Linked DNA regions of Homo sapiens: region 1 is linked to region 2. The links come from fine-mapping of genetic effects on gene expression. Tissue or cell type: whole blood. Region 2 holds a variant in brackets; the other region holds the start of a gene. All regions are shown on one strand. Distances are from middle to middle.

What was found.
Region 1: it holds the start of ZNF706, and the variant in region 2 is fine-mapped to the expression of ZNF706 in whole blood (TOPMed, PIP above 0.99).

What each region holds. Positions count from the first base shown.
Region 1 is chr8:101,200,216-101,209,340 of GRCh38, forward strand. It overlaps ZNF706 (zinc finger protein 706), which reads right to left and starts at 5,458. Exons shown (of 4, transcript NM_016096.5): 1 at 5,220-5,458; 2 at 1,392-1,528. The coding sequence starts at 1,526. RefSeq lists silencers at 4,993-5,592, 5,803-6,022.
Region 2 is chr8:101,232,784-101,241,908 of GRCh38, forward strand. The region is part of intron 1 of LOC107984005 (a long non-coding RNA gene); the gene reads left to right. Among named protein-coding and RNA genes, the nearest start is that of LINC02844, 26 kb to the right of the region's middle. The variant T/G (reference allele first, on the strand shown) is at 4,187.

The DNA of each region.
Region 1 (9,125 bases), 33 kb before region 2:
CTACAACTTAGTGACTGGCATATGAAGAGGGACTTTGTGGTAAAGAAATTCCTAACGTTCCCACATTTCACCTATAAAGAAAGGTAGGTCACATAGAATGTATTCTGCTTATCTGATTAACAGCAAACAATAGGTAACATTTACTGAACCCTTATTATATTAAGCATGTTACCTTAATTCCCACAGAACCTTCAAAGTAATCTTTAGCTCCTACTAGCATCATTTTACCTGATAAGGAAACTAAAACCCAGAGTTTAATTTGCCCAAGACCTTATTTTAACTTAGTACTAGATATGTGACCTCTCAAATACTATACTATACTGACTTCCCTTGGCAAGAACCTTCAATTATTTATTCTTAACCCATTAAATTACACAAAATATGAAATAAAAGTCTGTGGTTTTGAGTTTTTAAATATATGTAACTACTCTACCACATTTAGATTAAGGTATTTCTTCATTACTAGTTGATTAAAATTTGCACCCTGCCTCTTTCCAAACAATCACAAGCTGCTCAATTTCATTATTTTGAGTGTATATGTAGTGTACTAACTCCACTATGGTTTCCTTTGGTACTGCCACTCACTAACTTCAAGGGTAATGAGCTTAAACAAACAGGCAAGAGGCTCTGATTTGGAATTTCAGAAGTACTTCTTTGAGAGGCAGTACAGTAGTGGTCCAGAGGGTGGACTCTGGAGCTGAACTGCCTGAGTTCAGATTCCAGCTCTTCTACTAACCAGCTGGGAGACCCCACACAAATTGTTTAATTTCCATTAGTCAGTTTACTCTTCTGTAAAATGAGAACAATAAAAGTACTTTATCTTATAGGGTTGTTATGTGGATTAAATAGGTGAATACATGTAAAACACCTGGCTCTATGTGTGGCATATGGTAAGCACTCAAAAGTAGCTGTTATTATTACAGTTCTTCAAATCTAATACAACACATTAATTCTAGGAAAAGCTCTCAACGTGATTATACTCTATATGGTTTTACAGACATCCTAATTATAAATTTAGTGAAGAAAAAACCAATTATATAACTAGAGGTATACTTACTAGCATATTATATAGCTCTAAGAGTGTAGAGTTATATGATGTGCTAGTGAAGTGTATTATATGCCCTTATGAAGACATCTTTATTTTATATGAGGAAAGCAATTTTGTTTTGTTCACTCTGTTTTCCCAGCACCTAGAGATTTTTGCCTGGCCACAGGAGCCATTCAAAAAATATTTGTTTAAAGGGTGAATGAAAATAGATACCTAAAATAATCAGCTCTCAAACCTACTATTTCATGTAAAGCATCTATTTTGCCATGGTTTCAAAATTTTAATCTATTCAAGCCAAAACTGCCCACGGGAGAGCTGTATCTTTCAATTCAATTCCCCTTACCCTACAGACAGTGCAGGTATATATTAAGGCAGCTTTGGCAGCAGCCTTTTGGTCATGTCCTTGTTTCTTCTTTTGTCCAGCTTGCTTTTTGGCATTTTTCTGCTGAGACTGAATTTTCTGCTGTCCACGAGCCATATCTAAAAACAGAAGGTGAAGCATTAGAGTGGCTTATTTACTCTAATACAGAGTAATCAAAGCATAAGAACGTTCTTAGAATTGAAGCCTTAAGTTTTATAGAAATATCTGGCAAATAAAAATTTATAGGTATTAAAATTCCCACATATAAATGCTACAAAAGTATCAATTGACACAACCCTGTGGAAAACTAGTTGGTAGCTGTTTATTCTATGAGCCAGCAATTCCACTCTTGGTATATACCCAATAGAAATGCAAATGTTATGTACACCAAGACATGTACAAAATGTTCTGAGTGCCCATTCCAAAACTGGAAAAAATCTGAATGCCCATCAATAGTAACACGGATGCACAACTTGTATACATATTTTTATAGTATTTATACAACGGAATACTACCCAGCATTTAAAAAATTGTGGCCAGGCGCGGTGGCTCACGCCTGTAATCCCAGCACTTTGGAAAGCCAAGGCGGGTGGATCATGAGGTCAGGAGTTCAAGACCAGCCTGGCCAAGATGGTGAAACCCTGTCTCTACTAAAAATACAAAAAAAAAAAAAAAAAAAAAAAATTAGGCAGGCATGGTGGTAGGCACCTGTAATTCCAGCTACTTGGGAGGCTGAGGTGGAGAATTGCTTGAATCCGGGAGGCAGAGGTTGCAGTGACGCGTGATGGCACCACTGCACTGCAGCCTGGGCGACAGTGAGACTCTGGTCTCAAAAATAAATAAACAAACACACAAACAAAAAATTGTTACAAGTAACAACTTGGTTGTATCTCAATGTTAAAGGAAAGAAGCCAGTTGTGGGGAATATACATTATTTAAAGTTCAAAACAGGCAAAGCTAATCTATAGTGAAAGGGGTCACCTTGGGGGTTATGGGTAATGACTGGGAAGACAGGACATGAAGGGGACTTATGGGGTCCTGAAAATGTTCTTGAATCAAGTGTGTTTACTTATAAAAATTCATTGAATTGTACACTCAAGATTTATGCACTTTACTGTATGTAATCTTCACAAGTTTACTAAAAAAGTTTAGCCCCCGCTATCATTTACTTGATCACTCTGCAAAAGTAATTTCCCTTCCCAGTATTCATTGTGACTTGCGATTGTGATTTTTATAACTTTAAGAGAAATAAAAGCTGTCTGTTACTCCTTCTAAAGGAGACCTCAGAAATAGGTGGAAACTGTTTTCTTACTTAGTTTTCATAAAACTACTGTTATTAATTTTTTTAAAAAGTTGGTCTTGCTGGATTGCTGAACAAATTATAAAATGAGATTATCAGCAAGCCACTAATTCCAGAAGTTTCTTTGCTCTCTAGACGTTAGTTCCCATTTGAGGGAATGAACTTGGTTAAGAGGGTTCTTTTACAAAGCTGAAAGATACCACTTTTTGTTACCGATGATCTGACGTGAACCCAAATGGATTAAAACAAAAAAAAAAATCAAGTCACTGAAAAAAGTTACTTTTACTTTTCCATTTAAATTAAAGGCTTTTATTCGACCACACAAGTTAAACCTGCTCATAAAGTCTATCATGAGTCTCAATTGCTTTTTAAATATATCAAAATTGGATCCTAAGTAGAATTCATATATATATAGTTTTGACTAGTACTGTAACTGAATGTAAATCATTGCAGGACAGGAACATACAATGGATTTGTATCAACTTCACCAGGGAAGGGTGCTAGCTTCTTCTGACTAGGACCATAATTAGTTAATGGATATGAGGTCAAAGCATTTCATAAAAATTACTGAGCTCCTCCTGTTCCCCAAAAAAGGAAACTAAAAAAATACACTGATTGGAGAAGTTCCCACTAGCATTAAAAAAATGAACTGAAAGTCAGATAAAATATAAAAGAGGGTCAATGCTTTTCAGGATAGTCAGCTGACTATTTCAACTGAGGAAATATGGGGTTTTTATATTAGGGTAGCACACGAGCCTAATACATTTTCGTAATTGAAAATGTTTAGCGTGCTAGCCTAATATGAGAACCCCATTCCCACCAAACAATGGTAAATATTACCAGCTGTTATCAGTCCTTGAAGACTAAGCTTCCATTTTTGCTTTAAAAAAAATTATTAATTCTAAGCCAAATGGCACATTTTTTTTAAAAGTGTATTTAAGTCCGATGTTACCGCAAGCTTACAAACCTATTCCCATGGAAACAGGTTTGGATACTTATGTATTATTTGGACGACAGTAGTCACGTGATCAGCCTTTATGTATACCAATGTTTTGCAAGGTTTTTTGTCTCAATGTCTTACTATCAGGACCTTGTAACAAAATAGCCAGTCTTCTCACACATCTTAACTCTTCGACACAATGTATTTTATGTATCTTAATACACTGATTTTGTGGGAAATCTTGTTTTATGTTAAAAAAAATCTTCAAAAATGGTAAGCCACTAATTTCAGAAGTTCCTTTGCTTTCTAGAAGTTACTAGCTATTTTGATATTTCCATGTTGTGACTCGTACAAAGCAATGTCATTAGACACACAAAATTATTTTTAACTTTTGCACTTAGGACTTTCCCTAAAATATAACATTACACAATAGATTCAACCCATTTTCCATTGTCACCAAACAGCAACCAAAAAGACCGAAGAGACTTAATAAAGACAGTAGTCACTTGTTCTTATTCTGAAGACAGAAAACTTAACACCAGGTAAAGGAAATGGAATAAAATAAGCTAAATGCATGAGGTAGGCCCCTAACTTCTGACAACACGCCCCATCGATTTCCTTTCTGAAAGCAGAAATTCAAACGAACCAACCACCTGCTTTTGGACAGCTCAACTTAGGACTTGCTCTCAAGCCAACACAATTTTCTACAAAATCGTAGGCAGCTACAACCGCTCCTTGATTAAATGCGACAAACTGGAGGGAAAAAGTCACTTACAAATACCTACATGCTGGTTTTTAATGCAACTCTCAGTGTGGTTTTCCGAGGGGGCTGCAAAGAGGGAAGTAGTGGAAGAAACGAGTTCTAAAATGAGGCGCTCTCGTAGGAGGCAACAAGTAAGCTCTGCCCCAAAGCTCCTTTTAAAACCAACATAAATGAGTAACAGAAGAAAAGGATTTTGGGTCCAGGAAGTAGGCTCATTCTCCATAACCATCGGAAAGGAAGAGGCCCAGGCAGCGCTCCACATCCTGACCCTAGCTTTTAACACCATCGTTTTGGGGAGAGGAGAGGAGGAACGCACCCACAGTGAGGTCTCCACCCAACACTTCTCCGACCCCAGCTTCAGCCTGGCGCACCTTCCTTCCCAAACCCGCCTCTCCCGCCTCGGAGACCCCCTCCTCCTCCCTGCCACCAAAGGCCACGCAGCCCCCATCTAGCCAGTCCTCACGGACCCTGGACCAAGACGCGCCTCCTGGAGGCCGAGACTGCCCGAAACCCGGCCCCTGCGTCCACCGGGAGCGCCACACTCTGGCAGCTGACCGGCGGCTGTCGCCGGGGGTAAGGTTACCGCTCCGCTTCCGCGGCTGGCCTGCGACCCGGCCACCTGCAGGGCCTGGCAGGCGCCCGAACTCATCCCCTTCCCGCGGCCCGCCCCGGGCCGGGCCCTGCCGCCCCCCGCGACCCCTCGCGACCCGCGGCGAGTCCCACGGTCCCCACCGCCCCCCGCTGGCCGGCCCCCGCCCCGTTTCCCGGGCGTCCCGCGGCGTCAGCACCGCCCCCGCTGCCGCTCACCCGGGCCGGGACAGTCTTGCGTCGGAGAGACAGTGCAGCGCGAGAGGGCCGGGAGAGGACGCCGGAGGGAAAGGAAGGGGGAGCGCGCCCAGCACCGCTTGGGCCTCCTCCACCCGCTCAGGAGGGGAAACACGAGAGCCGGGAGCACAACAGCCTCGCACGCCCGCCGCCGCCGCGCGCCCGCCGCCGCCTCAGCCTTAGGGGAGACCACTACGCCTCGTGCCCGCGCACGCCGCGCCGCTCTCCTCGGCGCCCCCGCCCCGCCTGCTCCTCGCAGCCCCGCCCATGTGCCTTTCTGCGGCTGCCTCCTTCTGGCCCCCACCCCGCTCGCACGCCTGCGCCCTGGCTGGTCGCGCGGGCCAATGGCAGCGCGCCCCTATTACATAAGCGCGAGGGGGCGGGCCCTGGCTGACACAAACTTCAGGGGACGTCGCCTTCTGTCCCCAGGCGCCCCTCCTCTCCGGCGCGCTCGGTCCGGGCGGCTTCTTCACCCAGCCCTGGGAGCCACGTGATCCCGGTCCTGGTTGGTGACCGGGCCGCGGCGTGTTTCACAAGTCGCTCGCTCGCTCATCCACTCGGGCGGCGGCCGGGCCTCAGGCGCTGCGACCCTTTTCCCGCTCCTCCCAGGCTGACGCGCCCGTCTCGGCGCCGCCCTCCTCGGCACCGACTGAGGCGCTGGCCCGGGAGCGGATCGCGGGGCCGCGGTGGCTGAGTCACATTCCCGGAGCCCCGCCACCCAGGACACCGCGGCCCCGGCCCCCAGCGAGCCCGGCGGACCCAGCGGCTCTGAACGCGGACGCACAGCCTTTGTTCTTTCACAGCCGCCCTTTACCTCACTCCCATGGAAACCCCAGGTGTTTTCCCAAGCTGGGGGCTTTTAGTGAGTTCAAGATTCAAGCCTAAGTCGTATTAAAAATTGCTGGCTAGGCCGGGCGCGGTGGCTCACGCCTGTAATCTCAGCGCTTTGGGAGCCCAAGGCAGGAGGATCACTTGAGCCCAGGAGTTCCAGACCAGCCTGAGTACATAGCGAGACCCACGTCTCCACAAAAATAAAATAAAATAAAATAAATAGTGGAGCATGGTGGCCCGCGCCTGTAGTCCCAGCTACTCGGGAGGCTGAGGTGGGAGAATCGCTTGAGGCCGGGAGGTGAAGGTTGCGGTAAGCCGAGATCGCGCCATTGCACTCCATCCTGGGCGACTGAGTGAGACCCTGCCTAAAAAAAAAAAAAAACAAAAAAAGAAAAAAAAATTGCTGGCCAGGCTTCCCGGAGGGGTTTAGTTTGACTGCTAACAATATACGGTACTGAGTTGCTAATCCTTCGGGGAATGGTTAAAGTTCTTTGCGCGCGCTCTCTCTCCATTTACAGGCAGTGGCAGCAAACTTTCAATATCTGACAAGAGCAATGGCGATTATAACCATGATTAAAATTGCTGAATATCTGGAAACAGTACTTTAGACATCAGCTTTATTGTGCATACTTACCCCCGACCCCCGCCACATTCGTTTCTAATTAGAACTACTAGTGACAAAGGAGAAAAAAAAAAAGTGTTTGCATTGGCTGTTCTCACCTTGCCTGTAGTGCCGTTTCCCAAGTTTGCGTGGCAGTGCCCAGGAAATGTTGGCTGAATATTAGTATATCCCAAATGACTTGGACTGGGCTATAGATACCACAGAATTGTTTAAACTAGCCAGGAAGGAGTTAGCTGCCTATTGCATTTGAGTGGAGAAAAATACGAAATGAAACATGGCATGCAGTGATCCGGGTGTTCAGTTCTCCCTCTTCATCCTCATTTCAGCTTCTCTCACCTTCACTTTTTATGCTCTGACTTCCTTCTTGCAGTTTTAAATTACTCTCTAGTCCTAGATTGTAAGATTATTTTCATCAGGGAATACGCAGTATGTTAAACATAGTAGACGTTGAATAAATGGATATTGATCAAATGAACCGAGTATGTCTGAAGAAAGCAGCTTTTAAATTGACATAGCATGAAGCTCTAGCTTAGTCACTAATAGTCACTGTAACCTTAATGGTTGTGTTAATCTGGCTGATAGAGGGATGGGTACTTGTTGGCCCTAGAAATGGGAACTTCAAAGATCTGTGTTTATCTAGCCGTGAATGACAGTAGACAGTGGAAAGGGACAGTGAAATTTGTGTGGCAGAGATATGTCTTCTTAACTAAAGAGGTGACTCCTATTGTGAAGTAGGTTAATATGTCACTCTTTACCATGGCCTAGATGAAATATGTATTCAAGCTAGTGTTTCTTAAGTTTTTGAGTCATAACTCCTTTGAGAATTTGGTGAAAGCTATTGACTTTGCCCCCAGAAAGTTCATGTACTTATCATGTAACTTATCCTCATAGGTAGTGTTTCTTAATCTCAGCACCGTTGAAATTTGGGCTGGATGATTCTTTATTATGGGGCTCTGTGAGACCTGGGGATTGTAGGATGTTTAGCAACATCCCTGTCTCCTACCTGCTTATCCAAGTAGCACCTCATCTCCAGTTGTGACAACTAAAAATGTCTCCAGACATTGTGAAATGTTCTCAGGGGGTCAAAGTCTCCCCTGATTCAGAACCACTGCCTAGAGGATATGGCATAATGGTAACTTTATGTGATGGTTAGGGAATTTGAAAAAAAAAAAAAAAAAAAGAAACAAGGAATGGATAAGATTCAACATCTGTGAAGTGACACTCAGTAAATGAAAGGCGGATGAATTAGCATTACTACCAGCTGGTGTCCTACTTATGTTATAGAAATGTGACAGCAAATGTGATATGAACTCCTTAGAAGCATTTTTATACACATTGCTGGCTTTAATTGTGAATGCTACAGTAACTCTCCTGACTGTTTTTCTTCTTCTGCCTTTAGACAATTACCCAAGGTTAAGATGCAATAAACATGTGCCTATTTTCTATCCAAAATCTCAATCAGATTAAAATGCTTCTCTAAAGACCTGAAAGGCTTATTTGTTTATTTGTATTCATGTAGGATTTGGGGGGATGAAAGAATTGGTGATTAATCAACATATTATTTTCCCAATAAACAGACTATTCTGACAAATGTTTAGTGGCAAATAATAGCAACAGCAATAATGGCAACAATAAACTTAGAACAGAAATGGATTTATTTTTATTTATTTATTTTTTACCAGCTCTTTCTCTTTCACTCGCTTCTGCATGTTGAGATTTCTCACACATGCAACCTAGATCTTCTTGTCTTCTTTATATTCTTTCTCCAAAGGAATCTCATTCACTGTTGTGCCTTTAAATAGCAAGCTTCAGGTGACCCCCACATTTCTATCTCCAAATTGACATATCCAAATGCCTACTACTCATCTCCCCTCTGATGTCTTATAGACATTCACATTTAATAGCATATTGTATTGAGTCTAAGGAGCCATTAATTGTAAGTCACATTTATGTCCACTAAGATTAAAAAATACTGCCAACTGAACTATGACAAAATGCTGATATCCTTGATTCTAAGATACATCTTGATTTCAGAGACTTTAAAAATAGGCTTAAAAAATAATGTGATTTACTAGAATAGCACCAAAAAGAATAAAATACTTAGGAATTAACTTACCAAGAGAAGTGCAAAACTTGTATTCTAAACTCTAAATAACATTGTTGAAAGAAATTAAAGACCTAAATAAATGGAAAGGTATCTTATGTTCATGGATCAGAACACTTTGTAAAGATGGCAGTAATTCCCAAGTTGATCCACAGATTCGGTGCAACCCCTATCAAAATCCTGTCTGGTATCTTTACATAAGCTTATTCTAAAATTTATATGGAAATTCAAGGAGCCCAGAATAGCCAAAACAACCTTGAAAAAAGAATAAAATTGGAAGATTCACATTTCCCAATTTAAAAACTTATTACAAAGCTATAGTAATTAAAAC
Region 2 (9,125 bases):
AGCAGGCAGAAGCCACACGATGAAGGGCTTTGTCTGTCGTCTTGGAGTTTGGCCTCTATTCTGTGGGCCCCAGGGAGTCAGTGCAGGGTCTTGAGTCAGGGAATGACATACAGTGGCCATTCTACCTAAAGTGTTGGAAGGGAGAGTTTGAGGTGGAAGTTGCATCTGCAGAGAGGTTTTTAGGGGCTATATTACAAGTGTAGACCATCAAATTATAACTACATATGGGGGAGAAAGTAGAGGTGGAGGGGGATACAAAAGGCAGAAGAAAAAGCAGAAATAGAAAGAGGAAGAGGAAGAAAAGTGGATAGTAGAGAATGAAGGAAAACATAAGTCCAAGAAAGATGAAGGAAAGCGCTGAAGATGGGAGGCTGTGGAGAGGGCCTGGAGAAGAGGGTGAAGAACACAAGGAGACTGAAAGCTTTTCACCCTTGGTTCTTGTTGTGCCATGCCAGGCAAGTGTCTGCAGAGAGCAGAAATGCCATTTCCTGCCAGTTCTCTTTGCCTCAATGGGCAAAATGTCAGCAGCACTCAAGGGGAGAAGCCTGGTTTCAATATCTGATCCAAGGAGGAAGGGAGAGAGGAGGAAAGTGTGGTGACAGTGGTTCTCAGGGCCTTGCGTGTATCCAAGGAGTATCCAGCCAATGAAGGGGAGGTAAAATCTAGACAGGAAAAGAGCTGGCAGGAACCAGGCCAAGGGGAGAGAACCTCCAGCCAACTGGGAAGAGGTTGAGGGCCAGATCCTCCCCTAGAAGGAGCTGGAATAGGGACAAGCACCGAGGCTCTGGGCAGAAGACCTTTGTCCCTGGCACATCCGAGTGGTGTTTAATAGAATGCCAGCAGCTCAAGGCTCCCACAGACACTGGGGGTGGAGGAGGGGCAGCCACCCTGTCCCCAGGCACACACTACACTCCAGGTGTGGAAGCCACCTGTTGTTCCTGGCACCCCTGCAGGATTTTCAGCCTCGGGGTCTTGGCAAAGCAGATCTTGCAAGTGAACAGCCTTTAGAACTCAAAGCTTGACAGGCAGGGGATCAATATTTGAGATATTTCTATTTTCTAACCCAGCAAGGTTTAATAAGGTTTTATAACCATTGTTTGTTTTAGAGTTAGACAAACATGGGGCTGCCTCTCCTCTCTAAGCCAGATAGTGCTATAAAGGATTTCCCTAAATACAGCTGCCTCTCACCCCACCGCTTCCTCTACGACCAAGGAGGTGCGAGCCCTAAGATGGTGGGAATAGTCATTGTCCCTGCTTGTTTATTGCATAGAGTGTGTCTCCCACAGCACCTCTGTGTGAATGGGGTAGGATTTGGTCTTGTCTTTTTTCGTTTTTTATTTGGACTAGCAAAAGGCTGCCACCTGGAAGTGTTTGCTTTGCAGACTTCACCTTCCCCTGGGTGGTGGCTAACCTTAGACTGCAGTAAGCAGACCCATTTGAGCGATTACTCTGATCTGTGTTCTCTAACCCAGCATTTAGCAGCAGCAAAGGTAGATTTTGGTTAGCTATCTGCCACCTCTTCTGTCCAGAGCAGGAAGGCTTGCTCTTTTTTTAGTCTGTTATTTTGTTTGTTTGTTTTTTTGGTTTTTTTTGAGATGGAGTCTCGCTTGTTGCCCAGGCTGGAGTGCAGTGGTGCGATCTTGGCTCACTGCAACCTCCATCTCCCTGGTTCAAGCAATTCCCCTGCCTCAGCCTAATCCTGAGCAGCTGGGATTATAGGCACATGACACCACGGCTGTCTTTTTTTTTTTTTTTTTTGTATTTTTAGTAGAGACTGGGTTTCACCATGTTACCCAGACTGGTCTCGAACTCCTGACTTCAGGCACTCTGCCCACCTCGGCCTCCCAAAGTGCTGGGGTTACAGGCATGAGCCACCGTGCCTGGCCAAAGGCTTGCTCTTTATGAGGCCCTCTGGAGACCCAAATGATGCTCTGTGGGGCCAGGCCTCTGTAGACAAGGCTCAGCCAATAACAATGGAAAATGTCTTGATCTCTTTTGTTACTACCCCAGGGCCCATGGTGAGATCCACTGACAGTGTCTTTTGGTGTGTTTTTGACACCAATTGACAAGTTTCTCCCAAACTCTTTATGGAGACATTTGTATCAAGAGAAACTGGCCAGATGTGACAGGTTCCCTCCTGTAATCTTAATGCTTTGGGAGGCCGAGGTGGGATGATCGCTTGAGGCCATGAGTTCAAGACCATCCTCAGCAACATATCTCTACAAGAAAACAACAACAAAAACTAGCCAGGTGTGGTGGCACATACCTGAAGCCCTAGCTACTTTGGAAGTTGAGGCTTGAGCCCAGGAGTTCAAAGCTGCAGTGAGCTATGATCACACCACTGCACTCCAGCCTGGGCAACTTAGCAAGATCTTTACTCCTTACAAGAGAGAGAGAAACTGATGGGAACAGTAAACAAAGGGGACTGTAAGCAAGGAGTTGGTGGAGGTCATTGATATTCCCTCAGTGCAAAACTGTACACATCTTACCTAAAAGAAAGTAGCCACCCTTAGCCTATCTTGCTCAAGAATATTGGTCACAATTGACTGTGCACTCTGTTCCTGCATGAAGGACCAGCTATGACATGGCAGCTTCTCGGGGCTTCAGGTTCCATTTGAAGATTTTCTTATTTCTCTCCCTGTCCCTCCAGAAGCTGCTGGATTAATCAGACACTAACCTCTGCTCTCTAGTATGAATGTCTGTGCTTAAAACTGGTGCTCCTAATAGTACAATACAGTAATAGCTCATCATCTATTATCAGAGAATATAAGAACATTTTCAAAAAAAAAATCACAATTTAATTATTGATATGTATAGGTTGTAGCCATTTTGTAAAACAAAAAAGCACTACTCTGCTTTTATTAATAGGATGGGCTGGAACATAACTTAAACTTCTGATAATGATAATTTAGGATTGCTGTTGGACGCTTCTGATAGCACATTCTGCCCATGGAAGAAACAATCTTTCTTCTCCTGAATTGCACCAGATTGCCTCCCAGGCAGCCAGCTTTGCCTCTGCTCCCATATCTTAAAGTTTAATAGCTTTACTTTTGTACCAGTCTCCCTTTAGTAGGCTGTCTACAACCCCAGATATTCATAGAATGAGAATTTTTAGATCTAGAAAAAAATTGGCACCTCCACAGTCTTTGATTGTCACCTAGGGCAGAACCGCAGGTTACCAAGGAAACCAAATAATCCCGTATTGTTTGTGATACTAAGTCAAAGTTGCTCTCTGTGCATCTGAAGGAACAAAGTACCAAGACTTTGTCACAGTTGCCACTGTTAAGGTCAGAGTCTTTTAAACGTAGTCACTGTTAGTCTGGAACTGTACCCAGGGAAGGGAATACTACAGTACCCAGATTTTATTCTATCGATAGCAATAGTAGGTGTCCTAGTGATTGGAACTAAGTTCCACCTCAGAGTCACGTGTCTCTTGAGTCAGTGTTGTATTCACCTGTGGATAACTGTGGGCAGTTAAGAGTGGTATAAAATAGTCCAAATAAAAGGTGAGGGAATCTTGATGAGAATGGGAAAGAGTCCAAATCTGCTAGATGTTCCAAAGTCACAACTGGAAGTTTTGGTGACTGGTTTCTGGAACAGGAGGGGGTGAAGTAGAGGAGCCAGCTCTCTAACTTGGGTGGTGGCACAAGCCAAGATTTAGAGCACATGGGTAGGACACGTAGATGGCAGGTTTCTCTGTGCACATGTAGTCTAGCAGCCCAGAGGATACTCGGGGAAAATGTAGTCATCCTTGGCTTCACAAACATTCAGATGACAACTGTTCTGAGAGGTGCATATGGAATTGCCCTGACTATGAACATCATGTGGTGGAAAGAGGTGGGACATTGGTTCTTTTGGGTCAAGTTCTCCTACTAACTAGCTATGGAACCTTAAGCAAGTCGTAACTGTTCTTCGTAAGTCTCTAAAATGAGAATGAGAATATCTCTAAAATAAAATGAGAATATTTTCAAGGTCTGTTTCAAGTGTCACATTTAGAGCCAAATGTACTTTGATTCACTCTGTCACTTTTTCCAGGGAGGTATATTTGCTTATTTATTCAATTATATATTTGTGAATTGCCACAAGACATCCATGCCAGTTAAGTCTCACAGCTTTGTCAGTTGAATTAAGTATAATTATTGTCTCTCTGTCAGGATATCACTTGCCTGTTATGGTTTGAACCTAG[T/G]GCATTGTGTGATGGTTACTTTTTAAAATAGTTGCAGATCTTGGACTTTCATCATTGTCATAATTCATCTGCCAAAACATCCCCAGGCCTCACTTGCTGTCATGCAGCTTTTTGTTTTTAATTATGGTAAAAAAAAATCACACAACACAAAACTCACCATTTAAACCATTTTAAAGAGTACAGTTCAGTGGCCTTTAGTACACTCACAATGTACAACCATCACCACTATCTAGTTGGAGAAGAATATCATCTCAAACGGAAATGCTCTACCCATGAAGCAGTCACTCCCTTACCCCTTCTCCAGTCTATGACAACCACTAATCCACCTTCTGCCTCTATGGATTTGCCTATCCTGGACATTTCATACAATATGTGTCCCATTGTGTCTGGCTTGTTTCATTTAGCATAATGTTTTCAAAGTTCAGTATGCTGTGGTATGGTTCAGTACTTCATTCCTTTTGTGACTGACTAATATTCTATTGTATGGATATACTGCATTATATTTATCCATTCATCCATTGATGGACATTTGAGTTGTTTCCACCTTTTGGCTACTGTAAATATTTCTATGGTGAAAACATATATACAAGTTTTTTTTAAACATGTGTTTTCAATTCTTTTGGTTACATACCTAGAAGTGGAATTGTTGGGTCTTATGGTAATTCAACATTTAACTTTTTGAGGAACTGCCTAACTATTTTCTAAAGCAGCTGAACCATTTTACATTCCCACCAACAATATATGAGGATTCCAATTTTCCTACATCCTCACCAACACTTGTAATTTCTGTTTTTTTTTAAATTTTTTATTATAGCAAGCCCGGATGGGACTATAGAAAGCATGCTCCAGTGGGTGTGAAGTGGCATCTCATTGAGGTTTGGATTTTCATTTTTCCAGTGACTAAGGATGATGGGTATCTTTTCATGTTCTTTGCTGACCATTTGTATTGTGTCTATACAGGTATTTTGCTTATTTTTTCCATTGGATTATTTGTCTTTTTTGTTGTTGAGTTGTAGGAGTTTTTTGTATATTCAGCATTCTAGATCCTTATCAGATATATGATTTACATATGTTTCTCCCATTTTGAGGGGCTGTTTTTTCACTTACTTGTTAGTATCCCTTGATATAGGAAAGTTTTTTATTTTGATGAAGTCCCACTTATTTATTTTTTCTTTTGTTACTTGTGTTTTTGATGTCCTAACTAAAAAATCATTGCCAAATCCAAGGTCCTGAAAACGTGCTACTATATTTTCTTCTGATAGTTTTATAGTTTTAGTTCTTGCATTTAGGCCTTTGATCTAGTTTGAGTTAATTTTTGTATGTAGTGTGAGTTGGGGGTCTGACTTCATTATTTCGCATGTGGGCATCGGTTGTCTTGGTGATACTTAGGAAGGTGTTTATACCTATTGGTTAGTCCATGGCAGCTAACCACATAAACTATGCTATGGTTCCTTATATTGTGCCCATATGTAGTGGACACTACTGGTTGCCTACCAAAATCTATTACTCCTTATTTTTTCCTGAAATAATCCTAGTTTTGTTTCGGTATTCGCTTTTTTCCCCACATGATTCAGGGTAAAGTAACCCCACCCTAGGCTCTAGATCCTAATTACTTTAAGCCTGCTGTTCTCAGAATGTCATCTATAAACCCTTGAAGGTTTCCTAGACCCTTTCATTAATTCTGTGAGATCAAAACTGTTTTTAAAAGAATACTAAAGTGTTATTTGTCCTTTTCACTGTAGGTAACATTTGCACCAATGCTACAAAACCACTGGTGGGTAAAACTGCTGGTGCCACACACTATATACAAGATAGTAATAGTAGTTGTATTTTTGTATTCCATCATGCACTTGCAGAAAAAGAGAAAAAGCTAGTTTCACTTGATGCCCTTGAAGAAAAAGTCAATATTTTAAATTTAATTAACCTTTGACCTTTGAGTATACTTTTTAAAAATATTCTATATGAAAAAATACAAGTAACCTTCTGTTACATGTTGAAGTATGATTGTTATCTCAAAAGAAAGCACTTATGTGATTGTCTGGTCTGCAAGCTAAATTAGCTCATTTTTTTACTTGAAAGGATGATTGACAAACTATGTTTATTTAGACATAAGTATTTATAGACATTATTTCAAACTTGGACAAAGGGAGCCTCTTTGGGGAAACCAATTGACAGTATTTGACGCCAGGGATAAAGTTCAAGCTTTTGAGCAAAATTAGAATTTTGGAAAATGTGTATCCACTATTGTGAGCTTGATAGATTTCCATATTTTATTAACAGCTTCTGAATATTTAGATTTTTCTGATATCAGTGGCAATATTAGTGAACATGATTGTTTTGACATTATATAATGAAAGTGTCAATATTTGGAAGATCTGCATAATTCAGTGAACCAGTATTTTCCAAATGACCAATGTTTGACTTTACAAAATTATGCACGTATAAAAGATTAATTCAAAGTGCAAGACAGATCAATACATATTAATGTAACAACATAAAAAGTTCATTACTATGGTTTCCGTGCACACAGTTTTCAGGGTTCTATTATTCAAGGTGCATCTCCATCACCTGCCAAAGTGGAGGCAGATGGCTCAAGCTCAGGCAATCAGGCTGTCTCCTCCACTGGAAATTGATCTTGGGTGAAAATAAAAAAGCATAGAAAACTGTTGAAATTGACACTGGGAAGAGATTTTTCACTTATTCTTGCTACCTGAATCCTGAGAATTGCCCTGATTCCTGCCCCTTCTGAGGTCTGGTCCCTCAACTTTTTCTTAGATTTGGGAGCCACCTGTATCCTTAAAAAAGTATTTTTTGCTCAAGGGAGCTACAGTCTGATTCTGTTGCTTTCCACCAAGAACTCTGATAGAGACGTAGAAACCTACTGTGAGTCCTCTCTTGCTGGGACACCGAAGCTCTCCCTGCCATGCTGTGCTTCCTGTGCCTCTCACCTATAGATCTGAGACCTTTGAATGACATTGTTGATGAATAATGAATGGAATTAATTAACTTGACTAGCTTTCCCCAGTGCTATGGGCTGACTGTCCCCCCAAATTAATGTGTCAGAAACTTAATCTCCAATGTGACAATGTTGGGAGGTGGGGCCTAATGGGAAGTTAGATAATGGGGCCCTCATGAATGGATTAATGCTGCTATAAAAAGGACTTGCAGGAGTGTATTTGCCTTCTTCTGCTCTTCTGCCATGTAAAGACACAGTGCTTGTCCATCTTTCACTTGCCCTTCCATCTGCTGTCATGTCAGGATGCAGTAAGAAGATCCTCACCGGATGCCAGCACCTTGATCTTGAACTTATAGCCTCCAGAACTGTGGGAAACAAATTTCTGTTCTTATTGAATTACCTAGTCTGTGGTATTCTGCTATAGCAGCACCAAATGGACTAAGACGCCTGGTTAACATTCATCATCTGTTCATCTGCTTACATCCCTGTGGATATGGACCACTTGTCTGAGCCAGGCCAGTAATCTGCATATCCATTCAGACAGTATAGAAGTGATAGCCTAGGTGCCTTCCTGAGGGCTAGACTGAGCCTGTCCTGATTCTTTTCCCTTTCCATTAGCTCTGTGCTTACGAGTTCCCAACATTCTTCAGATCCAAGGCTTTCATGAATTTATAGTGGAGAAAGAATCGTACCTATTTTATATACACTTTCATCATGAATTGGAAAGAACAGAGGACCTAGCATAAGAATACCTGAATTCAAATCTCAGCTTTACTACCTGCTATGTGGCCTTGGGCAACTCATTTAATTTCTCTTGAGTCTCAGTTTCCTCATTTGTGAAATGGGAGTTGTAACTATTCCTGCTTTACTTACCTTACAGAGAGGTTGTAAGGATCAAGTTACATAATGGATGTGACAGCAGCCTAATATCCACTAGTTTAACTTTCCCAAGGATCAGGATCTGTGTTTTATCTGCATTGCATCGACACGGCACGATACCTGGGTCACAGTAAATACTTACAACATGTTGGTTGAAGTAACCTCCTTGGGAGGGAGTTGTTACAAAGCTCAACTAGAACTGGGACTAAACTAGCAATGGGAAAAAAGAGGAGCAAACTCAGAGCATGTGGCCTCATTATTCTATAGTCTTGTTCACTGGCTCCTCTTTTAGGTTCTTTTATACTGGACTGTTTTTTCACAACACTAAAAACCTGGGGTTTTTCCTTCCCCAGTTGCCATTGAAACTGGAACTGCTTGAAAGAGCAGCTGAGCAATTCATCAGGCTCTGTGGCTTAGAAGGAGATGCGAGCTCACTCTAAATGAGATTTCCAGTGACACAGGCTCCAGCGGGGATGTTACAATTTCACAGTCACACGTTACTGGCATTGTTTTAAGCTTGCATGAAAGCTTTTGCTAAACCCAACTGCTTCAAGGTTTGCACCAACCACTTGGGCAAACTGCCAGTCGCTATGCCACATTCTTTCCACATCTGAAGGATTATTGAATATCCCTCACAGATTCTTGCTTTCTTTCTTTCATGAGACAGGATCTTGCTCTTTTGCCAAGCTGGAGTGCAGTGGTGTGATCATGGCTCACTGCAGCCTTGACTTCCTGGGCTTAAGCAATCCTCCCACCTCCGCCTCTCAAGCAGCTGGGACTACAAGTGCATGCACCATGCCTGGCTAATTTTTAAATATTTTTTGTAGAGACAGAGTCTCACTATGTTGCCCAGGCTGGTCTCAAACTCCTGGGCTCAAGCAATCCTCCCATCTTGGCCTCCCAAAGTGTGAGCCACTGCACCCGGCCTCTCACAGATTTTTCTAGGGTGAAACAACCCAGCAGATATGGACTGTACCCTTGGAATGAGGCAAAGACTGAAGGGATTTTCTTATTGTTGTAATTAAAATTTTATTTATATTGAAGGAAAATTTATATCTAATAATACTCATAGATTGTAGTTGTGCATTGGATTAGTTCTTTCAA